7 linked regions of the Homo sapiens genome follow. The protein of the gene in region 1 purifies or fractionates together with the protein of each later gene. This does not show direct contact. Each region holds a gene or a part of one and is shown in the gene's direction. Other genes may lie near its edges.

What was found.
Region 2: the proteins of LRRC61 (region 1) and TGFBRAP1 purify together in Homo sapiens (affinity purification with mass spectrometry; one large-scale study listed by BioGRID and IntAct). This does not show direct contact.
Region 3: the proteins of LRRC61 (region 1) and FAM184A purify together in Homo sapiens (affinity purification with mass spectrometry; one large-scale study listed by BioGRID and IntAct). This does not show direct contact.
Region 4: the proteins of LRRC61 (region 1) and PI4K2B purify together in Homo sapiens (affinity purification with mass spectrometry; one large-scale study listed by BioGRID and IntAct). This does not show direct contact.
Region 5: the proteins of LRRC61 (region 1) and SIK2 purify together in Homo sapiens (affinity purification with mass spectrometry; one large-scale study listed by BioGRID and IntAct). This does not show direct contact.
Region 6: the proteins of LRRC61 (region 1) and YME1L1 purify together in Homo sapiens (affinity purification with mass spectrometry, with the first as the bait; one large-scale study listed by BioGRID). This does not show direct contact.
Region 7: the proteins of LRRC61 (region 1) and PLEKHA1 purify together in Homo sapiens (affinity purification with mass spectrometry; one large-scale study listed by BioGRID and IntAct). This does not show direct contact.

What each region holds. Positions count from the first base shown.
Region 1 is NC_000007.14:150,336,006-150,338,656, forward strand, and holds the end of LRRC61 (leucine-rich repeat-containing protein 61), read left to right. Parts: intron 1-712; 5' UTR 713-856; coding exon 857-1,636; 3' UTR 1,637-2,151; downstream 2,152-2,651. Other genes in the region: RARRES2 (retinoic acid receptor responder protein 2 precursor), read right to left, coding at 2,620-2,651.
Region 2 is NC_000002.12:105,274,236-105,277,735, reverse strand, and holds part of TGFBRAP1 (transforming growth factor-beta receptor-associated protein 1), read left to right. Parts: intron 1-64; coding exon 65-122; intron 123-2,032; coding exon 2,033-2,176; intron 2,177-3,500. UniProt on the Homo sapiens protein: Plays a role in the TGF-beta/activin signaling pathway. It associates with inactive heteromeric TGF-beta and activin receptor complexes, mainly through the type II receptor, and is released upon activation of signaling.
Region 3 is NC_000006.12:119,068,665-119,072,164, reverse strand, and holds part of FAM184A (protein FAM184A), read left to right. Parts: intron 1-3,021; exon of another isoform or gene 3,022-3,118; intron 3,119-3,500.
Region 4 is NC_000004.12:25,275,533-25,279,032, forward strand, and holds part of PI4K2B (phosphatidylinositol 4-kinase type 2-beta), read left to right. Parts: intron 1-1,481; coding exon 1,482-1,655; 3' UTR 1,656-3,500. UniProt on the Homo sapiens protein: Together with PI4K2A and the type III PI4Ks (PIK4CA and PIK4CB) it contributes to the overall PI4-kinase activity of the cell. This contribution may be especially significant in plasma membrane, endosomal and Golgi compartments.
Region 5 is NC_000011.10:111,699,949-111,703,448, forward strand, and holds part of SIK2 (serine/threonine-protein kinase SIK2), read left to right. Parts: intron 1-937; coding exon 938-1,062; intron 1,063-1,503; coding exon 1,504-1,627; intron 1,628-3,254; coding exon 3,255-3,475; intron 3,476-3,500. UniProt on the Homo sapiens protein: Serine/threonine-protein kinase that plays a role in many biological processes such as fatty acid oxidation, autophagy, immune response or glucose metabolism.
Region 6 is NC_000010.11:27,144,385-27,147,884, reverse strand, and holds part of YME1L1 (ATP-dependent zinc metalloprotease YME1L1), read left to right. Parts: intron 1-216; coding exon of another isoform or gene 217-387; intron 388-2,294; coding exon 2,295-2,457; intron 2,458-3,500. UniProt on the Homo sapiens protein: ATP-dependent metalloprotease that catalyzes the degradation of folded and unfolded proteins with a suitable degron sequence in the mitochondrial intermembrane region.
Region 7 is NC_000010.11:122,391,708-122,395,207, forward strand, and holds part of PLEKHA1 (pleckstrin homology domain-containing family A member 1), read left to right. Parts: intron 1-595; exon of another isoform or gene 596-665; intron 666-1,473; 5' UTR 1,474-1,493; coding exon 1,494-1,634; intron 1,635-3,500. UniProt on the Homo sapiens protein: Binds specifically to phosphatidylinositol 3,4-diphosphate (PtdIns3,4P2), but not to other phosphoinositides. May recruit other proteins to the plasma membrane.

The sequences.
Region 1 (2,651 bases):
AGTCCAGAGCAAAAGAGCTAGCTTTGGCGGGCAGTGAAGTGAGAGCAAGGGTGTGCGACCTAGCCAGGCCACTTACCCCAGCCTTCCCTGTCCCTTCACTACCTTGACCTCAGTTTTCTCCTTCAGGACTAAAGGCCAACTTCTTATGCTCTACAGCTCCAACCAGAGGTACCAGCTGACCCATATAATCTGGAAACAAGTTTGAATTCATTGCTGTTAGAAAGAATTGCAGTAATACTGAGTGAATCAAACAAGGCACATGTGCTCTCGTTTGCATTGCATATACATTGATTATCCCAGAAAGAAAACAAAAGAAACTGGTGATGGTGGTTACCTATTGCCTATTCAAAAATAACGGTTTAAAAAACACCCCAAAACTAATAGGGATGGATCGTGAGTGGTTACGGAAAAAGTAAAATAATGTTTTGCCCCTAGTTTGGATTTGACAGGAAGAACTGGTAATATTGGGCCTGAATCCATCCAGCATGGCCCTAACCAGCCAGGGCCAGTCTGGGCTGCTCCCCTTGGGTTGGGCCTGCACCCCATCCCTGTCACTCAGATGGCTTTTGTGGCCTGTGTCCCAGCTTGGTCTTCAGGTCTTGCCTGGCTGAGATTGTTGGTTTTCATGGTAAAAGCAGGGTCAGACTCCCTGCCGTCACCTGCTGCGTAAGACACAGAAAGTGCTGCCTGCTGACTGACTGTCTCTCCTCAGGGACTGGCTGGCTTCGAGCAGGGCATCGGAACCAGGCCTCCTGGCACTGGCCTGGGTAGAGCCAGGGCGAGCACCAGCTGACCCCCAGTGGAACCCTGTGACAGTCCTGCCAGGGCCCAGGCCATCCCAACCGACTTCCATCTCATGGACCCTCCAGCGGAGAAGCCGGGAGAGGCTGGCGGACTGCAGATCACACCCCAGCTGCTGAAGTCACGCACAGGCGAGTTCTCCCTGGAGTCCATCCTGCTACTGAAGCTGCGTGGCTTGGGACTGGCTGACCTGGGCTGCCTGGGAGAGTGCCTGGGCCTGGAGTGGCTGGACCTATCAGGCAACGCGCTCACCCACCTGGGCCCGCTGGCCTCCTTGCGCCAGCTAGCTGTGCTCAATGTCTCCAACAATCGGCTGACGGGCCTGGAGCCACTGGCCACCTGTGAGAACTTGCAGAGTCTCAATGCCGCAGGCAACCTACTGGCCACCCCGGGCCAGCTGCAGTGTCTGGCTGGGCTACCGTGCCTGGAGTACCTGCGGCTCCGAGACCCTTTGGCCCGGCTCAGCAACCCGCTCTGTGCCAACCCCTCCTACTGGGCTGCAGTCCGGGAGCTGCTGCCTGGCCTGAAAGTCATCGACGGTGAGCGTGTGATTGGGCGTGGTAGTGAGTTCTACCAGCTGTGCCGAGACCTGGACAGCTCCTTGCGTCCCAGCTCCAGTCCAGGCCCCAGAGCCACCGAGGCCCAGCCCTGGGTGGAGCCAGGCTACTGGGAGTCCTGGCCCAGCCGGAGCAGCTCCATCCTGGAGGAGGCCTGCCGGCAGTTCCAGGACACACTGCAGGAGTGCTGGGACCTGGACCGCCAGGCCAGCGACAGCCTGGCCCAGGCGGAGCAGGTACTCAGCTCTGCGGGCCCCACCTCTTCCTTCGTCTTCTGAACGTGGCCTATGGCCCAGGACAGCCTGGCAGGTGGCCTCGCTGCCCCCAGTTCCCCTCTCTGCCCCCACACTCGTCTTAGTTGCTTCACACTGGTCACTGGCCCTGCACACTGGGCTATTGCTTTATCCCTATCCTGAGAGCAGCCCCTCCCCACCATCCCTCCACATGCTGCAAGGACAGACTGAAGGGCTGTGAGCAGGTGTAAGGGCTCCCACATCCGTGAGCCTGTGTCCGCAGCTGCTGCCACTCTGGGCTGCTCCAGCCTGCAACTTAGTGGAAGGAATTACTTCCTCCTGAGGCTACAGGCGAGAAAGGTAGGGATGGGCCAGCCTCCCGTCTCAGCTGTTGGGAGACAGTAGGCAGGCTGAGTGGCCCAGAGCACTCCTGGAAGTGGGACTCCCCTGCCTTGCAAATGTGCCTCTCCAGACTGCTCCTGCACTTACCCCCTCCCCGCAGCACCTTCTCTGCCCGTTCTTGTCCACACATCTATTAAATGCTTCTGTTTTCATTTGCATCCCTGCCTGGCATTTCATGGGGGCACCTCTGGCTCTGGAGCACAGGAGGCTCTGCTCACCCTGCCCACAGGAAGGGGTCCCAGAGGAAGGGTCCTGTCCCCCTGCCCTCTCTGGCCGCCTCTGAGCTACGCTAAGGAGGAAGTCGTGCAACACAAGGAGCTGAGAGGCAGCTGGGAGAGCAGCTTTATTATCATGGCTGGGGATAGAACGGGTTCCTCTCCCTGGGGGCTGGGGTCTTCCACTGGTTACCACCCGCAGCGGTCCTGGAGGCACCACGCATCTCTAGACAAAAGGGGAAACAGGTTTGGGGGTGAGGGAGGTTGCTTCAGCCCCAGTCCCAGCTTTCCTCCCAGGCTTCTGACCTGTCCCCTCCCAGGCTCCCAAAGCCCAGCCCAGCCCCTCAGCATTCCCAGGGCTGGCCTCATCCAGACGGTGCTCTCAGCCCCCTGGTGCCTACCAGTGCTGGCTTAGCTGCGGGGCAGGGCCTTGGAGAAGGCGA
Region 2 (3,500 bases), on another chromosome or scaffold:
GTGTGAAGGTCGCCTCCAGGAGCTGATGGGGAGAGGTTGTACTTACCGTGTTGTTCTGTTTCAGGTATTTTGCACTTGGACTGCTCTATCATTATAATAACCAAGATGCTGCTGCAGTTCAGGTGAGTCTAGAAGGGTTTCCACATGATTTAAAAATCAGCACCATGTAAGTAATACTTAGTGTTACTTAAAAAAAATTCACAAGTTGATAGAGACCACTTTTGCCTGATCTACACCCTTTTATACAGAATAAAAATGATTCTGTTTTAGAAAGTGAATTCCTGGAGAAATGTTGGCCAAGAGTTTTCTTCTCATTGTCTTTCCATCTCCTTAAAGAACATTATCAAGACTGAGTTTTTGAAAACTTAAGAAATGAAAATATGATCTCACAGAGTTCCAAGTCATAATATATCACTACCCTTATCAGAAAATTTAGGCAGTGAATGATAGTCGGATTTACCATTTCCACTGTTAGTGATGATCACTGTTGCCAATGAGCTGGGTACATTATTATCCTTGTGTCACCTGTGACAAAACCAAAGCTGATGCATGCCAGTTGCTTGCCCGAGGCCATGTGTCCGTGGTAGATCTGGGATCTGAACCGCGCTCCATTGGCCTGGCAGGGGTCCTGCACCCTAATCAAAATGGCATCGATTTATTAGCATTGTCACATTTTGTATCTTACATCTTGCTACTGATCTTGAGAAAAGCCTCATCTCACACTCTCAGGGGGAGACTTTCTCCCCTTCGTTATTAGTTATGCATTTGTACTGCACCGTGTTGTTTCCTGATGTGCCTTTTTGCTTTATTTTGTGAGGGGCCAAGAGCATCAGCCATGTTCCCCAAGCTAAAGTTAACCTCATGACTCTGGCAAGGCTGAACATGTATTTAGTGTTTGATTGCTTTGTGAGACTATTGTGGTAACCTGATTGCAGAGCAGAACAACAACAACAACAAAAAATGGAGTTGGGTGAATTAACACGTACCCAATGGCCAAGAGTAGATTTGGGTGTCAGTGATAAAATTTTCATTTTCAAAAACCTGGTGTTCTCAGTTACAGCTTTATATAAGTATAGTAATAACTTTAGCAGAGCTGTAGAGAGATAGATTTGCAAACTTGAAGTGATATGGGATAAATCTCCATACGTGGTAGAATTTTATATAAAATGGCATATTTCAAGGTATGTGTGATTATTTGGTTTCAGCAATTCTGTGTTGAAGAAACTAGTATCATAAAAAATGTTCGTATGCTGACATCAGAATTCCAGAATTCATATGCCACCCCTGTTTCTGGGCTCCTTCCTGGTGCTGTGGCTTGGAGGGGTGGTGCTGTGTATGGGTGGGTGAGGCACGCCATGCAGGTATTGCAGAAGGAACCCACGCAACCGTCATCCTTTCTACCCCCAAGTGATGCTGCCTCATTCTGGGGTCCTGAAAGTAGGCTTCACTTAACATGGTAGGGAAGTTTCTGGCTGAAAAAGCAAAAGGCTTTTATCACTGGAGTCTATCCTGAGCCCCCTGTGCAAAAGGCAGTGTGAACTCAGGGGACAGAATCACTGAAGCTTTTGTAAAAGCACAACATCTGCCTATCACAGTCCAAAGGGGACTTCAAAATCAAGAATGTCTGTGACGGAGAAGATGGAAACAGAGCCTGGCTGATGGTTGTAGGTGAATCTTCTCTGTGTCGAGATGTTATCAGTGACCGTTTTCTTTATTTCATGAAGAAACATTTTTAATATATTCACCTCCCTGCATATATTCTGTTTACTGTGTTATTGTTAAAAAAAGAAAGAAAGATAAAAGAACCTAGAGCTTAATTTTTTTTTTTATTTCTTGGACTATGTCTTTTTACATTTCTTTATTTCTCCAAAAAAACTAAAATTTAAGCATTTACAGTTTTTCCAACTACTTTAAAAGGTATTAAAAAGCCAAATAAGTAAACATATGCCATTTCTCAACTAATTCTGAGATATGTGCCTTTATGATTGTTTTTTCTTTTCTTTTTCTTTTTTTCTTTTTGATTCCTTTCCAGTTGTGGGTGAACATTGTGAATGGCGATGTCCAGGACTCCACACGCTCAGACCTGTATGAATACATCGTGGATTTTCTTACCTACTGCTTAGACGAGGAACTAGTGTGGGCCTATGCTGATTGGGTCCTGCAGAAAAGTGAAGAGGTTTGTGCTTCGTAAAAATGCATTCTCTTTGGTTGGGGGAGGTGGTAAAAACAGACCCCAAAAGCTTTGCTTTTAGGAGGGGAAAAGAAAGCTACATTTCAACCTCCTCCTCTGTTTTTTGTTGTTGTTATTATTCCCCTTTTAATACCTTCCCTTGAGCTCTCTGGATTCTAGCTCTAGGGCAGTTCTGCATCTTGCTGCTGAGACATTCCATTGAGAATCCCCTTGCTGGGGCAAGTCACTTGTATAGAAAAGCAAGACATAGCCAGCTTGCATTTTTAGCATCTTCTTAAGAACTTGTGTCTGTGAACCCCGCTCCTCGACCCCTCAGAAGTCTGACACTGCTGTTTTCTGGAGCAGGATTAGGTGGTTGCCCTGAAGGACTTGATCTTTGGGAGGAGGAAGCACCCAGACCTGGGCCACACTGGGCCCTCATCCCTGCTCCCACCACTGCCAACATGGAGCTTGTGGGCCTGGAGGAGGGAGGGGAGCCATGAGCAAGACTCGGCCTGTCCTGGAGGCTGAGAAATGCTGGCAGTGAAAAAGCACCTGTTGGCTAGAGGGAAGGTAGCAGGCTCAGGACAGTATCCTTAGTAAAGCCCCACAGGTGACCACAGGTGACTGGGAAGAAGACAGCAAGCATTTCAGTTCTCATCGTGAAAAACGTATACGCTTCCATGGCTCCCCTTGGAGAGACAAAATGAGCTTTCTGATGCAGGACGTTGGTCCTGAATGGAGAGTTTCTGAGTGCTGCATCTGCCTTTCTAAGACCTGAGTTGGAATATATTCTCATATCCTCCGTGGTGCTGGCTTCCCTGGAAAATCAGAGCCAGGCACTTGCACTTTGCATACTTGTTTCTCCATCTTTACTTTGCCTCTGTGCACACGCCTGCAGAGCACATCCTGACCTGCTCACACACACCTACAACATGGATCTCAGTGCCGTTGCAAGGTTTAGGCTTCTCCCAATGCTTATGGATGATAACAGCAGATACTGCACGGTGGACAATCCCCTGACAAAGGTCATCGCTTAAACATCATAGCAGCCCCTCAGTGGGCATTAGCTACAGATGAGGAAACTGAGGCTATAGTTGGTAGAGCTGGGACACAAATCCAGGCTTATAGAATCCAAAATTCATACCATAATACATGATACGTGAATGTATTGGCCTTGGAGGGGGGAGGTGCGTGTGTGCGTGCACATGATAGAACCTCCCACATGTAAGTGCTCAGGGGAGGTGCAGTGGAGAGCTGCTTTCCTGCCTGCCTCACTGTCCTTTCCTTGAACCAGAGGATTGGACCAGTGCCTCCACTTGATGGACAC
Region 3 (3,500 bases), on another chromosome or scaffold:
TTAGGTTGGGTGCCCTGGCTCATGCCTACAGTCCCAGCACTTTGGGAGGCCAAGGCAGGCAGATCACTTGAGGCCATGAGTTCGAGACCAGCCTGGCCAACATGGTGAAATCCCGTCTTTACAAAAAATACAAAAAATTAGCTGGTGTGGTGGTGGGTGCTTGTAATCCCAGCTACTTGGGAGGCTGAGGCACAAGAATTGCTTGAACCCAGGAGGCGGAGGTTGCAGTTGAGATCATGCCACTGCACTCCAGCCTGAGTGACAGAGCAAGACTCTATCTCAAAAAAAAAAAAAAAAAAAAAAAGATTAAAGGTTTAGACTTTAGACTGTGACCAGGCTGACCCTCTCATTTTATAAGTATAGAAGGTGTGAGGGCTCGGTGCCATTTGAAGATTACTCAACCTGGACTCACATTCAGCTCTCTAGATTGGTCTAGGTGGGGGTGGCCACACTAACAGGCCTCTTTTCCCTGTGTCTACCTTCTTTCTAATATTACTTATTCAATAAGAGACCACAGAGTTATTGTTTTTCCATGTTGGAACCATGTTTTACTTACCATCTGAATCAAATTTTTGATAAGGGTGAAACCAACCTGTGTCTCCTCTGTATACTTACTGTGGAACTTTCTGGGTTTATAGGTTGTATATTTTGTATACTATGACTTGGTCACTTTGTAACAGAGGTTTATTGTGTGTGCTGTCAGCTAAATGTCATAATATTTTCATGTTTTTATTAACAGGTTTAGTCATTCCAAACTGAAACGTATTTAAAATAACATTAACTTAGAGACTGCCATACTTGGTGTGAAAATTACTACTGTGGTTATTTTAAATGTCTTTCTTTTGACTGCTTTCATTCTTGATTAGATTGTTGCTTAGACCCCATTCCTAAACACAGTAAATTGCAAGTTTTCCAGTTTTTATTGATTCACTATCTGTTTAGTTTATGAAAATCCTTTGCTAGCCTCTAATCACCAGTCTTAAAAAGTGTTATGAAAGATAAAGATTCAGCAGGAATATGTGACTGGAGTAATTTCTTCATTTTAATTAATAAGTTCCCTATACTTTAACTTTTAAAATTGTGATATTTTTGAAAATTTTGTATCTCTTAAATGTGAGATGGGAATGAAGAATAACCTGGGTCTATAAAGCTAATTAGTTTGTGGAAGAAAATAGGAGGTAATGGGGGCCAGGGGAGTATTGATAAAATACTGTTATTTTGCCCTTTCAATTGATCTTGTGAGTTTTTTTTTTTAAAGAAAATCTTCATAAGCATTCAAATAAATTTGAATATTATGCCATGAAATGGAAAGGATGTGAATGACGGGAGTTCGTAACGCCATTCTTTTTATTCACCACAGGAAGTTTCTATCCTGCAGCCCACTTCAGAATGTAAAGGACATTAAGTAAATGTCAGAATTGGTGCCCCATGTCCCTTTTTTGGAGATAGACACCTATGGGAGACAATCACTAACTGATTTCAGGATTAGATAAATAGATAAATAAAAACAGCAACATTGAGATCCCATCTCTACTTTTTAAAAAATAAAAATAAAGAAAAACAATGTTATAAATGGTAGTTTGATATGGGGGAATCATATCAAACTATTAGGTTTATATTTTATATGTCAAGTGTGGTCTAAACCATAGGGGGCTTTTTAGATTGACCTAGAGAGTTAATGGTCCTTCAAAATATTGGAAAATATTCTTTGGCTGCCAATCAATTAATATATAAAAATGAATTTTTGAAACAATGATATTTGCAAGTTGGAGATTGCCAGTTGTATTTTGGTATGCTTAACCTTTAAGACCAAGCAAAAATTTTAGAAAATCTCTGATTCTTAACTTTTAACTAAATTACATCAGTGAACAACTGTCATTTGTAACCTTATTTCACCAAGGATTACATCTTTCTTTTCTACCAAAACTTCAACGAGAATGTATAAAAAGTAGTGAAGTTGAATATATGAATTTTTTATCCTGTATCTTACACTATTATCTTGAGATGCAAATGGAAGCTGAAACTATCAAAGGATCTATAGTACATGGAAAAACAAGACTTAGTGATTAACAATCATATGTGGGATTTGGATATTTTAGACTTGGCTACCATGTGCTACCTCATTTAATTGTAAAGGAGATAGTACTTTGATTTTTTTAATTGCTAATTCTGTATTTCCTTATTTACATGTACCATCTCTATACCAAAGTTTGAGGAAGTTGGAAAGTAAAACATTTCATCTATAAAGTGCATTACTAATATTTAAATTATCAATAAAATTGATAATTTTAGTAAAATAACAGGGTAAATTCCTATTTATGCGAAATTATTAGAGAATGAATTATTTTAGTTAACTAGAAGTTTCCATAGGGGTTAATAAGTTTTCACTTTCTCATATAGTATACTTACATTTACATCATACCATTCATATATCACACTGGAGTTCTTCATCAACTCCAGATCATTGTTAGGATCATCAGTGCATATATAGGAAATTGGACCAAACTTATGCTAGTCCTATTAGGCCAAATCCATGAATGCTGATATTTAATTTCTGAATAAATTGTTACTTGCCCTTTTACTTGTCATGTCTTTTTTACTTATAAAATGAAGTGTCGCATTTGGATATTTACAAATTCTAGACATTGGCCTTGGTGGTTGAGCAGATTTTGTTTATTCTGGCGAATGTGTGTCTATGTGTTCACAGGTATTTGCATTTTTCATCCTGTAGCTCCTTAAGCACAGTTTTAAAGATTCTCATTTCTTTCAGAAAACATTTTATGACCAAAATACTAAATAGTATTCTTTGCCTACCTTTAGATGTTTCGCCTAGTGAATTTTGGGAGGAAGGTGTGTGTGTGTGTGTGTTTAATGGTCTACTCAGAGTAATAAAATATACTTAGATATGACCGAAGTAGAATATATAGGTCTATGTGTTTGGTAAACTTGTCGAATGCCTACTTTATGAAAGACATTGTGCTTGGTACTATTAATTATTTAATACTATTTATTATTCCATTTCAGACTATATATTTAGGTTGGCGCAAAAGTAATTGTGGTTTTGGCCTTTATTTTCAATGGCAAGAACCTCAGTTGCTTTTGTGCCAACCTAATACTTCACATATATTTTCCAACAGACTTGAGAAAATGTAACTGGAATATATTAATCATATATTTTAATTACAACATATTTATCAGTACATTAATTCTGACAAATTTTAGATGTGTAATCATGGGCAAATTTTTCTATTTGGTTTCGTTCTTTTTGGGTAGAACTTATGTACGTGCTTTTCTTGGATAAAGAAACTATACTGATACCTTCTAAATTCTCTAATAAGGTTTTGATGACTCAGTTGACATATTCTGGTTACAAATCTCTAATATATTTGGCTGGGGGGTAGAGCGGGTAAAAGGAAATTTCAGTCTTGGAAACCCCGGAGTTAATGTGTTTGTGTTAGGTTTAGGTTTCTCATGGGCAGCCGGAGAGCCACATTGTTCCC
Region 4 (3,500 bases), on another chromosome or scaffold:
GCCTCTAGGCCCAGCTACTCTGGAGTCTGGGGTGGGAGGATCGCTTGAGCCCAGGAGGCAGAGGCTGCAGTGCACTGTGATTGCACTCTGCACTCCAGCCTGGGTGACAGAGCAAGACCCTGTCTCAAAAACAAAACAAAACAAAACAAAAAAAAAGAAAATGTTAAGGGAAGAACTTAAAAGTGATCCTAAAACATAAACATAACCTATAACACTGTTACTAGTAAAGATCTATTTTCCTGATGTGTTAAATGCTCCAAATATTCTACAAACTAAAATCATCTAGTTTGGCCAGCTGTGGTGGCTCACACCTGTAATCTCAGCACTTTAAGAGGCCAAGGCAGGAGGATTGCATGAGCCAGGAGTTCAAGATCAGCCCTGGCAACATAGCAAGACCCCATCTCTACAATCAATCAGTCAATCAATCAATCAATCAACCAACCATCTAGTTTATACTATTTAAAGTATTATGAAGTTTATTTATTAGTATGGCTTTATGTGGAAACATTTATGCTTATCACTATTGACTAGTCTTTACAAGAACCAGTGAAATGCATAGGATGTATATATTAGATATTTTCAAATACCTGAAGGAGAAATCTGTATTTCTAAAATATACAAGAAAGGACATTTTTCCTAATATGCAGGGAAAAAAGAAGATGAACTGCTATAATTTTATTTGACCTGAACAGAGACCAGAATAATCTATGTATTGTGTTTCATAACCTTATTTGCATGCCCAAGTAGAAATTCCCAGAGTATCTTTGAACATGATATGTAATATATTTTACTTTCCCTAATTTTATTTTTCTTAAGAGTAAACTCTTAAATGTACCTTTATTTGAAATGACTGCCTTCCCAAATTCTCTAACCTATTTGCCCTGCTTCATGCTTTCCCATAGCAATTTCACCTTCTAATACATGGCATAATTTACATATTCATGTTTATTGACTCTTCTCCCTGCTAAAGTGTAAGCTCTACGAAGGCAGCAAGTTTGCTTGTTTTTTTAACTATTGTATCCCTAGCACTTACAGCAGAACCTCGCACATAGTAGGCATACAATAAATTTGTTGAATGAATGGATAAGGCAAGTATTTAGTTAAAACCAGACTGTTTAAACCAGTATTTGTTGAGTTTTTATGTTAAATTGAATATGTATGTAGACCTCTTCACTTACCGTTCTTTGATTCCATTGCTCCTGGACATAGGCAGGATATTCTAGAATATTTTAAACTTACCATCTGGCAAAAGTTATTTAATGCTAATTGTGTGTGTGTGTGTGTGCGCGTGTGTGTGTGCGCGTGTGTGTGTAAACATACATTCATATAATACATATTTATAACAGGTACTTATCTTCACAGTCTCTGTTGCTCATAAATGGATGAAATAAAAATTATAATGAATAAATGGTTTAAAAAATGTCAGTGAAGTGAAGCTTTTTATCTTTTTAAATTGGTAAAAATCTCTCTTCTTCCCACAGATCTTAAACCTTACTCAGGCATTGAGAGACGGGAAGAGTCCTTTCCAGCTAGTACAGATACCTTGTGTGATTGTGGAACGCAGTCAAGGTGGAAGTCAGGGTCGGATTGTCCACCTGAGCAATTCCTTTACCCAGACTGTCAATTGCAGGAAGCCATTTTTTTCCTCCTGGTAGTAAATGTCAGAGTAAGAGAAACAAACTGTTTAGAATTATCATGTTTTTAAAACATCATAGTAATATAAATCTGCTGTTAGGAGCTCCAGTTGCTAAAACCTCAATTTAAGTCTTTAAAAGGTTGTATTTTGAATGTAACCAAAAGTTTACAGTTTTTTGTCCAAATATTAAATTTCTATTTCAGGGAAGAAGTGCTATATCTCCTATATTGTATTTTTGTAGAAAATTTGTATTTTATGTTGTTGTTAGTTTAAAAGGTAATTTTACACATGCTGGAATGACTGTAATTACTCTAGAATTCCAAGTAGAATACAATAACTTTTAATATTGAGAAGAATGTTCATGCTAATTCTTCTTACATTACAAAAGGCCTTTGAGGATGCCTACGTCTGAAATTGCTCTTACGAACTTTAATAAAATAGTTAGCTAATAGAAAAACAGGTAAGAATAAAGCAATGTTGCCTTAATTTCAAAAGCTGCTATTTTAGAATTTGAATAAGTACTCCTAAAGTGACCATTATTAGGGACCAGAAAATTATATCTTGGCTAAGTAATAGAGGACCATTTTGGTTTTTGTACTTGAGAATATTTTTGGTGAATTACTTTGTTGTAGTGAGGAAAAAACCTAAGAAATTTCCCCTTTTTTTAAAAAATGGAAATATTCAATTGAGACTTGAGGGGAATAATAGAAAATTAAGGTAGATCCCCAATATTTTGGAATACCAAAATTGCCTTAAAAATTCCCTTCTGTTTCTTACATGGGATCAAATACTTGAGATTAGTACTTCAGAGTACTGGCCTTGTTCAATTTAGTACTTCAATTAGTATTAAACTTCACTAAAAAGTAAACCATACTCCAAATTGTATATTGGATTGCATTTTGGGGTCCTAGGTCATACGTTCTTCAAAATTATTATGATTGTACTATTGTACTTGAAATTACAGATGTTATTATAATTACAGTCAAATGTAGACTATCAGGCCAAATTAAAGGGGAGCATGGCAGATAACCATAAAGTCATTTATATTTGATTTTGAAATGTATTTTTGTACTTTATTTTGAATATCATCCATATGTCTGACATTATTGGAATTTGTAACATTGTTAATGCACTAAGTGATTTAAATTCAATTGATGAAGATGTGATTTTACAGAAGCAGAAGTTTCATTTTCTTGAGGCTTAAAACCAATGTCACCACTTGGGCTTAACTGGGTAATTTGTGGTCTAGGCCTTTTGTTTTCTAAGCTTACTATCTTGTGTTTGTTTATTTGCTTTTAATGAAGTATTTTGTGTAGAAGGTTAAATTAGGATGCAAAACAGATCTGCCATTCCTTTTTCCCTTATATCTTCCTTTTGGTCTTCATGGACGAGATGAATGAGGATTCTGCTGCCCTGAGGGAGTTCATTGGAAACCTGCGTTCTCCTACCTCTTCCAACCCTCCATTAGCTCAATTTTGAGATAATGGAAAATTGACTGGAAATTCAAAACTCAAACTACTATCTTTAGATATAAACACTAGTAATTAAAATGTGCCTTTTGAAGATGTTTTCTAAGAGAAAGGAAATACGTTGCAGTGATGTGGGTACTGCTTTCATAAAACAGTTTTTTCAGTATTTTGAGAATTGCCATATTAATTTTTATAATGGAAAACTTAATAAATTGCTACTGTTTTATATCATAAAATTAAAATACCATGGTAATATTTGCAAAAGGTCTGGCCATACCAGAAAAGTACAGTTGAGATAGTTAAGATATAACCACAAGTCAGAGTACATTGGTTGTATTTTGTAAACTTTCATGAACTGAATTCTTATTTAAATAGTATGGTTTTTTTTCAATAAG
Region 5 (3,500 bases), on another chromosome or scaffold:
GGAGAGCCAGTTCCTGTCACTGAGACAGGCTCTTCAGTCAGGAGTATGTAGCAACATAAGACAGCATGAGTATAACTTAACAAGATAATAGGTATTTGTTTCTTCGGTAAGAATATGAGACTATAAAGGCTTAGCAAAAGGGTATGAACTTGCATTTGTAACAATACTTACTAAATTTTTTAATGCATGTTGAAGGCATCTAAGTAGTGTTTCCAGAGTGCATTCTCTGTATCAAAACTGTAGAGTCAGTATGGCTAAGATCATAAGGAGAAGGCCATTAACTGTTTTGAACTATAATGCCACTGCGATCCATAAATTAGTAAATAAGTGATGGTGATAGGTGGCTTGTGGCTGGGCTATGTGGCCATCATATGTTAATGAGCTATTCAGATGGTTATCTGCCTAAAACAGGATATGTGGACCAACACTTAGAGGGTTGTTACTTAGGAAACACTGCACTCAGTTGCCTTCAAGGGTTATATATCTGGGGTAATGGCAGCCAGTCACTCAGTTGTGTTTAGGTGAATGTCTTAGAGCTTTACTCATTTGTTTCTTTCCTTATAGACCATTTAAGATAAAGAGCTCTTTAGCAGTCATCAGGTAATTGAAATTCTAAGATTATCAAATACTAGTTGGGTTGTCCACTTTAAGGCTGATTTTCTTTCACATGATATAAAGTATTTTTCCAGTCTCTCACTTACTCGCTTTGGGAAGAAAACTTGATTCATTTACACATTCATTCAGCAACATTCCTTGAGTACTATTTGCTAGTCATTGTGCTAATGCCAGGGAAACATCACAAGATAAGATGCCATCCCAGTCCTCACAGTAAATAGTAGTGATATTGTTAATATAGCATATTAGAAAATTTATTACAGAGAAATGCAGTATAGTTTGAGAGCATAGATGAAAATAACATTTATTTCCATCCTAATAGATTTCGGTTTTGGAAATTTCTTTAAAAGTGGTGAACTGCTGGCAACATGGTGTGGCAGCCCCCCTTATGCAGCCCCAGAAGTCTTTGAAGGGCAGCAGTATGAAGGACCACAGCTGGACATCTGGGTACTGCTTTGCTTTGCTGTGTTGTTAAATGCATCTATACTGATAATACTTGGTGTTCTGGCCCATCTTAGAAGCTCCTGGTACTTAACACATAAGCAGTATTTCATATTTTCCCCATCCACTGGACTATAATTACTCAGAGCATCTTGAAATGGATCCCTAGGAAAGAATTTCTAAGGATAGGTGTTGTCATCCTAATATCAGCAGTAATTTAAAGTTAAGTAGTAATCAAAATTATCAGATTCAAATTCTTTGGTATTTATTATAAGATACTTATTGTAGTAGTCAGGGTTTTGGATTTTTTTCAAATTCTGAGAAAATAATAAATCCAGACAGGAATTTTTCAGTCCATATGATTTCAAGAGCCCTGGGGATGTTCAGGAAAACAAAGAGTGTTTGACGTTCTTGGTAGAAAAGTCTCTGCATTGTTTTCTTCCCTAGAGTATGGGAGTTGTTCTTTATGTCCTTGTCTGTGGAGCTCTGCCCTTTGATGGACCGACTCTTCCAATTTTGAGGCAGAGGGTTCTGGAAGGAAGATTCCGGATTCCGTATTTCATGTCAGAAGGTAATCAACTTTTCATCTTATTAATGGTGTTTTACAGTGTTAGTGCTCCAAGTGAAATGCCTAGGTAAAAGCTTCTTTTTTTCTAAGAGTTTGGGTGCCAAATAAAGTGACTGAGCTGTAGGTTAAAAGCTATAGAAAGAAGCAACCTCCTTTATGTAGGCGAGACAGGTTCCAGCCTTCTACTTGTAACTAAACACACAGCATTTCCCAGATTAAGAGCAGCATGTCTTCTCATTCATTCTGGGTCTATAAATGTCCCAGGTTTATTTTAGATTTAACGAAGCCCTTTGTAGATACAGATTCACAACCATTTTACTCCAATATGAAATGAACTTTATAAAATTAAAATTTTTTTAATTAAATAAAAAGCCAAACTGGCAAAACTCTGCTAAATTCAGATGATATGCCATAATCCCTGCCTGTCGTGTATTGAGCTGTTACCTAGATAGCAGTTAAGTTTACCCCTTAGTTTCATTTTGGTTATCATTCTTAACTCTGTTCTTTCTACTAAGAGTAGAAATAATAACTCTTCATAGTTAAGAGCATGGACTGTGAAGGCAGACTACCAGACTGCCTGGTTTTAATCCTGAGTCCACTGGTTACTGGCCATATGACTTTCACAAGTTTTGTCTCCTCTCTATCTGCTTCAATTTCCCCATCTATAAAATGGAAATAACAATAGCACCTACCGCACGGGTGTTGTAAGGTTTAATTAAATTAATCTGTCAGTCAGGTGCAGTGGTTTATACCTGTAAGTCCAGTGGTCTGGGAGGCTGAGGCGGGAGGATCTCTTAAGGCCAGGAGTTGGAGACCAGCCTGCACAATATTGCAAGACCCTGTCTCTACAAAAAAGTTTTTTTTCAATTAGCCGGGTGTGGTGGCATGCACCTGTAGTCCTAGCTACTCAGGAAGCTGAGGCAGAAGGATTGCTTACAGTGAGCTGTGATTGCATTACTGCACTCCATCCTGGGCAAGAGACTGAGACCCTGTCTCCAATAATAATATAATAAATAGGCATAATCTGTGTAAAGCACTTAGCACAGCGCCTGCCATATAGTGACAGGAGGTTACCTTATGTGTGAGTGAAGAGCATCATGTCAGCTCAGAGAATATGCTAGTGCTCAAAGTTGCAGCAGTGCGGTTTTCTTGGTGTAGTCAGAAGTAAGTAATATTTTATGTACACTTTTCTCAGCTACAGTGATGTGGAGGAGAGCAGCAGCCCGTTGGAGAGCTCTTTGCCTCGCTTACGTAGCCTTAGTATATCAGCATTAGATATGACTGAGGATCGATTTATTATTTGCTTGTTCTAGGAATGAGGCTTATTTCTTTCCTTTAGTGGAAACCAAAGTCTGTTTCTAGATATTTTCAGTTGTGAAATTCAGTAGAAAGTTTCCTTTAGCCCAGAATCTGATAGACCTACACCCTCCTGTTTTTCTTAGGTATTTGTTCACCATGTGAACTTGAGAAATATAAGTAGCCTGCATGTGTTCATTTATTCATTTGACCTTCTGCTTTCCAGTAGAGGATACAAAGATTAACACCCTTGTACAAAGTCACATGAGTCAAGCAAATAACCCTGAAGTGCAAGGTGATTCTTGTGACTTTTGTAACATTGTGTTTTCTATAGATTGCGAGCACCTTATCCGAAGGATGTTGGTCCTAGACCCATCCAAACGGCTAACCATAGCCCAAATCAAGGAGCATAAATGGATGCTCATAGAAGTTCCTGTCCAGAGACCTGTTCTCTATCCACAAGAGCAAGAAAATGAGCCATCCATCGGGGAGTTTAATGAGCAGGTTCTGCGACTGATGCACAGCCTTGGAATAGATCAGCAGAAAACCATTGAGGTAAAGTGATCAGAGATTTCGGGGT
Region 6 (3,500 bases), on another chromosome or scaffold:
TGTTCCTGGGGATGTGTCCTACTAGAGAAGCTGTTACACGAGTGGTGCCAGGGGAAGCTGCTAGGTCCTGCTGGCCATTGTGCACGCCAGGAGCCAGGGTTTGGTGAAACTGCACAATTGACAGGAGCCAGATGCTATAGAAACCACGGGTGTTACAGACAGGAACTTGCTAAATGAGCATACCACAACCAGGAATCAAAACCTCTCTTCCTACAGTGTATGTTCAGTGACTTCCTGACGAAGCTTAACATTGTTTCAATTGGCAAAGGAAAAATATTCGAAGGGTACAGATCCATGTTCATGGAGCCAGCAAAAAGGATGAAGAAGAGCTTGGACACAACCGATAACTGGCACATCCGTCCAGAACCCTTCTCCCTCTCAATCCCTGTACACTGCGGGTTTCTCCAAATGCCTATTGTCTATGATTTGTTTTGTCCATCGTTCTTAGTCACGGCTTAGTTCAGGTTCTTGCCATCTTTCACTTGTTCCATCAGCCTTCTCTCTCATCCAGTCTAGTTTCTTTGTTTGTTTGTTTTATCATTTTTAAATTTTTTGTAAAGACAGGGTCTTGCTTTCTTCACCAGGCTGATCTCGAACTCCTGGCCTGAAGCAGTCCTCCCACCTCAGCCTCTCAAAAGTGTTGGGATTACAGGCTCGAGCCACCATGCTAGGCCAGTCTATCTTCCTTAGTTCTCCATTTTCTTCTATAAGACAGAACTAATCATGTTACTTAGAGAATTAAATTCAAACATGGCTCTTCACAGTTTGGCCATAACCTATCTCTTTAATTTTTTCTTTCCTTGAATTTTTTGAGATATTCCAGACCCTTGGATGGCTTTTTGTTTGCCCCCGTCCCTAAGCCGCCTTGATCATTTTTAATAGCTTAAAAAGTACTTTTAAGTATTTTATTTCATCATGCCTTTAACTGTCTTTTACTATGTGCTGTCATGTTGTATGCTAGGATACGTAGATGAGTAAGGCATGATCTCTGCCTTTGATCCTTACTATTAGGAAATAAGGTGTATTTTATAGTTATGTTAGTATTGAGAAAATGAATTCTAAGAATATGAGTTATAGCTAATTTAAAAAGTACCGTATTCCCAGACATCAGTCCAGAGCTATATAATCCGTGTCCATGCCTCTTTTAAAAAAAACTTTATTTTTAGAGACAGGGTCTCCCCTTTGTAGCCCAGGCTGAAGTGCAGTGATGCTGTCATAGCTCACTGCAACCTCCAGCTCCTGGGCTCAAACATTTCTCCTGAGTAGCTGGTGCTGCGGGTGCATACCACCATGCCCAGCTAATTTTTAAATTTTTCATCAAGATGATGTCTTACCATGTTGCTCAGGCTGGTCTCAAACTCCTGGCCTCAAACGATCTTCCCACCTTAGCTGTTTTGGGTTTGAGTAACATGTAATTGTTACTTGCCTTTAAGTGCCTCTCTTTCAGCTCATGTGGACAAGAAAATAATCCCTATCCTGTTGTTTAAAAGTGGGTATACACACATTTTTGTGATTTTTAGACTTTTTTGCCTGATTTTCACACAGTTTTGACTTTAATTTTCTTCTTTATTAGAAGATATGGGTAACTTTAGAACCTCTGAGTTCAAGGAAGGATCTAAGCAATGAGGCCAGAGGAGTGAGATGTCCTATGGTAACCAAGCATACCATTTCTTTGTCAAGTGGGCTTTTGTTTATGGCTGCTTAGGGGCTTAAAAGCTCCATGGACTGGTGAGGATTATCATTTGAATGGAATTTCCCCAATTCAAGAACCTTACTATTATCCTCCAATCAGTTCTACACTGTTGGGGAAAATCCCCTGGACCTTATATAACATACTTTGTAACCCTGCAGTTAGTTACTCTTACACTCTTGTCATTATAAATGCTTGATCAATAGTTGATAGACTAGCTCTTGATCAGAGTACCCTTGTATGGAGAGAAGGAAAAAATGCCATACATTTCACTTGATTCTGTGAACCATAATGCTTAGGACAGTAGTGGTTTGGGTTTGATTTAAAAAAAAAAAAAGTTTTTCTCATTCATGCTGAAATGTCATCTCTTTATTTAAGGATACCATTAGGAATATAATTTTTTAACCTATGTCAAACCTCATATGACTGATCTCAGTAAAACGAACTGTGAAAATATTTGCATCAATTTATTTTTAAATATTAAAAAAAGGAAATATATTTGTTAGACTTTTAAAATCTGATTGTTTTAACTGATAATATGTACTCCTTAGGTTAAATATCTTGATAATATTAATGCATACCTGGTTGACCCAATCTTTTACAGCCTTCACTTAACTTAAGGGACCTTGGATTATCTGAACTAAAAATTGGACAGATTGATCAGCTGGTAGAAAATCTACTTCCTGGATTTTGTAAAGGCAAAAACATTTCTTCCCATTGGCATACATCCCATGTCTCTGCACAATCCTTCTTTGAAAATAAATATGGTATGTTAATGTGTTTTTTGTTCCAATTAAATATTTTAGCACTATTAATAATTATAGATACCATTTCTTAGCTTTCACAGTAGCGTTTATTGTGGGCTGGGTTCTTTCCTGAAGTGTTTTTTTTTTGTTTTTTTTTTTGCAATTTTTCATATTGAAATAGTACCAGATTTACAGGAAAGTTGCAAAGATAGTACAGAATTTTGCTTCCACTAATTTTGGCATCTTACATAATCATGTTACATTTGTTAAAACTAGGAAATTAACATTGGTACAATAATTTTTTTTTTGAGACGGAGTCTCCTTCTGTCAGCCAGGCTGGAGTGCAGTGGCACAATCTCCGCTCACTGCAAGCTCCGCCTCCCGGGTTCACACCATTCTCTTGCCTCGGCCTCCCAAGTAGCTGGGACTACAGGCGCCCGCCACCACGCCCGGCTAATTTTTTGTATTTTTAGTAGAGATGGGGTTTCACCGTGTTAGCCAGGATGATCTTGATCTCCTGACCTCGTGATCCACCCTCCTCAGCCTCCCAAAGTGCTGGGATTATAGGCGTGAGCCACCGTGCAGGCCTAACATTGGTACCTTATTTTTAACTAAACTACAGACTATTTGAATTTCAACAAAATTTGTTTTCACCAAATCACTAGTTCTCTGCAAGTGTCCTTTTTCTTTTCCAGGATCTGATCCAGCATACCACATTGCATTTAGCAGAATGGGGGGGCGTTGTTTGTTTTAATTTTAGGTGACACACATTTAATTCCAGGAAACATACTTAATCTTTGAGAATACATTGATTAAAAAAACAGTTGTTATCCCTTTTGTGGAATGTCTACATTTTTTTTTACTTGAATCTCATAACAGTATGGTAGTATAATAAGTGGGTTCATACTAGTCTGAAAAGGGATGTCAACTTTATGAGTTTTTCTTTGGATGGCACTTAAACAGGCCATAAAAATCCAGGAACAAAATAGCAGGTTTGACTAGTTTATAATGAAGGTTTGATTTGAAGCTGTCCTTTGCATAAACTTAATTCATTAATTCTTGAC
Region 7 (3,500 bases), on another chromosome or scaffold:
TGATTTTTCAAGCTTTGATTACATTGTAAACTTTTTTTTTTTTACAAACATGGTAAATTTATTAAAGAAATTATTTCCTTTAAAGTATCAGATTTATAAGAACAATAACAGCAACAACACACAAACTTATTGGATGGTTTTATTTAAAACTTTTTGGTGTATTTTATCATTTCTCTGACTGCATATGGAATAGTGATGCAGATACATAGTATATCAGTGTGCATTGTAATTGAATTTTCACTGTAAGTTAAATTTACCTTGAGCCTCTAAATAAATAGTTATGTAAATTCATCCTGCCAAAAGATGTGATGGTGCCAGCTATAGAAGTACCAGAATAGTAACAGCTGTCTGGTGCAGATTTGGGCTAAGCATCACATCAAGAAGGAATCACATGTCTGTAGTCTCTAGAGAAACAGTTCTTGGCACCTAATGGTTTTTTAACTTTAATCAGTACAATAAAAGTTGCAGTACTTTAGGACCAGAATATGATACACCTTTTAAGTCTATTTTAATCTATAATGTCTCTCTTTTTCTTTTTTTTCTTGTAATAATTTACTTGCTAAAGAAACTTTTTTTTTTCCTTTGTTTCTTATAGTCTGGCTCTTGCTGATTGAATTCCTTTGGTGCAGTTTAGCATGTTCCTCTGTGTTCTGCATCTCCTGTAGGTTGGTATTTGGATATAGAGGGGATCTAAAAAACATTTTTTCTTGTTGCTTTATGTTCACATGATAGGTGATGTTTGTGTCTTCCATCAGGAGGCACATCATACCTGCTTATCTCTCTTTCCAGTACATTAACTAGTTTATTTTGATTCACTTTAGTTTTAACAATTCAAGGGTTTTTTAGAGAGGATGGTGTAGAGCATAAGATAGGAGATCTAGAGTGCGGTAATCTGGATTCAGGCTTTGACTCTTGGCCTACTAGTTTTGGAATTTTGGAAAATCACTTCCCCTGTGTATTAAGTTCCTTATCTGCTGGGGATGATTATGCCTACTCCTAGGATTGTTTAGAAGATTAAAAGAGTTAACATATGGAAAAGAACCTTGTACAGAGCCTAGCATGTAGCAAGTGGTCACTAAATTTTAACTTTTGTTGTTTTGTGAATTTAAAAATATTCTAAAATAATCTAAAGGATAGATTATCTTGATTTGTGAGGAAATTAAAATTTGGATAACTATTTTTTTTGGCTCACCTGGGGTTTTTTTAGGGAAAAAGTAAGTAAATTATTCAGCTGAGGTGAGTAGCTCTCTGTTGTCCCCATCACAGTGAATAAATAGTTACATTTAGTAACCACTCTTCACAAACTGAATTTCAAAAGTGATTTTTGTCAATGCCTCAGATGTTGGTGTGTGTTCATTTTAATTGACCTTACCTAATGTTGGCAAGTTGCCCCCTCATTGAACAGATTTGCAGTCCATGAGAAATACTTTCCTGTTTCATAGGGAGCTTACTGTTAATATTTTTATTTTACAGTGTAATGTTCAAGCTCAGAAATGCCTTATGTGGATCGTCAGAATCGCATTTGTGGTTTTCTAGACATTGAAGAAAATGAAAACAGTGGGAAATTTCTTCGAAGGTACTTCATACTGGATACCAGAGAAGATAGTTTCGTGTGGTACATGGATAATCCACAGGTTTGTAAAATCCCAAGGATTATCTTTTAAAAGCACAGAAAGTTGTATTTAAGTATTTAACATACTATACAGGCTTTAGATTTGTCTTCTTAAGCAGTATATTTTTAGATTTATTTCTACTGGCTGTCCTCTCTGCCCTGCACCCCTGACCTCTACTGTTTTGTTTGAATTTCAGAAGGTGAAACTAAGTTTATTTGATAAAAATTAATGCTTCTGTATATATTTTTCCCTCGAGAGAGAAATACTCTCTCTGGTGGCAAATTAGGTTTTAGAAAATTAGAACTTGAGTCACAGAAAAAAATAACAATTGAAGCTGTCCCAAAAATAAGAAATACTTTTTTTGTAACATGTATTTCAAACAACAGCTAAAATAAAGACCAGGGATAGATGATTTTCTTGCATTAAGGAGGCTTAATACCAGGGTCCCTTTAGTGAGATTAAATTTAGGTTTAAGATGCTGCATCTAGGATAGAGACTATTATTTTTAAATAAATAAATGACTTAACCACATGATACTCTTGCACATATGTAGTCCTTTTATTTTGTAGTGTCAGATTTGAGTCAGTCATTGTAATGCCATCCATGAACTGAAATGCAGTTTGATTTTATTGTTGCCTTGCAAAACACAGGGGTAAATGCTACAATTTAAAAAATTGGAATCCCAGCCTTAAGAGGCCTGAGATTAGATATCATCTGTGAAGTAGTTTTAAACTTTCAACTTTCTCTACTTTTTTTTTTTTTTTTTTTTTTTTTTGAGATGGAGTCTCTTATCACCCAGGCTGGAATGCAGCGGTATGATTTTGACTCACTGCAGCCTCTGCCTCCTGGGTTCAAGTGATTCTCATGCCTCAGCCTCCCGAGTAGCTGGGACTACAGGGGTGTGCCACCACACCTGGCTAATTTTTTGTATTTTTAGTAGAGACAGGGTTTTTCCGTCTTGGCCAGGCTGGTGTTGAACTCCTGATGTCAGGTGATCCTCCAGCCTCAGCCTCCCAAAGTGCTGAGATTACAGGCATGAGCCACCGCGCCCGGCCTTTTGGAACTTTTTATCTTCAAATAAAAATTGGTGTAGAAGTTAAAAATGGGGTTGTATGTTGCAAGGAAGTATGTGCAAAGCAAGGGATGAATCTCTAGCAGACTTCTAAGCTGATTTTTGTCCAGTAGGCTTCTCGTGTGGGTGAGGAATGGAAGGTCTAGGGAAGAGCAGAGACTTATACAAGGTTCTGTTCTGTTTCACAGAGCAGGAACTAGGTCTGCTGATAAGTAGTCTAGTATTCTTCACTATATACTGATTTTAGATTAGACAAGATATATATGTGTCTATAGTAGATACTAATGTGTGTATGTTTATTTATGTAGAATTTGAGTTGTAAGGGACCTCTCCTCACCCATATGAGCCATTGCACAGTTCTGCCTATTTTCTCTCCCTGATTTTTCTCTCTCTTCACAAGGTCTGGTTGACATATGTATGGTTTCTCCTGAATTTTACTTGAAGCTCCTTGATTATTTTTCTGTGTTCCTACATAATAGATTCTTCTTGTCATTCTTCCTTTATCAGTACTACCCATTTAGCAGAGCTAAAAGGAGTTAAGTACAAAATAGAATATATTTATTACCCTGAATAAAACTTGAACTTGGAATTCAGAGGAAAGTTACACAGCTAGTAGAAGGAGTTGAAGTCTTCATGGAAGTGGTAACATTTGAAATTGACTTAGAAGTTTGGATATAATATTGGCTAAGAGATGGAAAAGTTGAGTATTCCAGTGCTCAAAGAACAGTGTGGGCAGAGATCAAAGCAAGAGAGCCTATGGCGTGTTTGGAGACTAGATCACTTTGGCTATAGCACTCAGCTAGGTCTTGTCCACA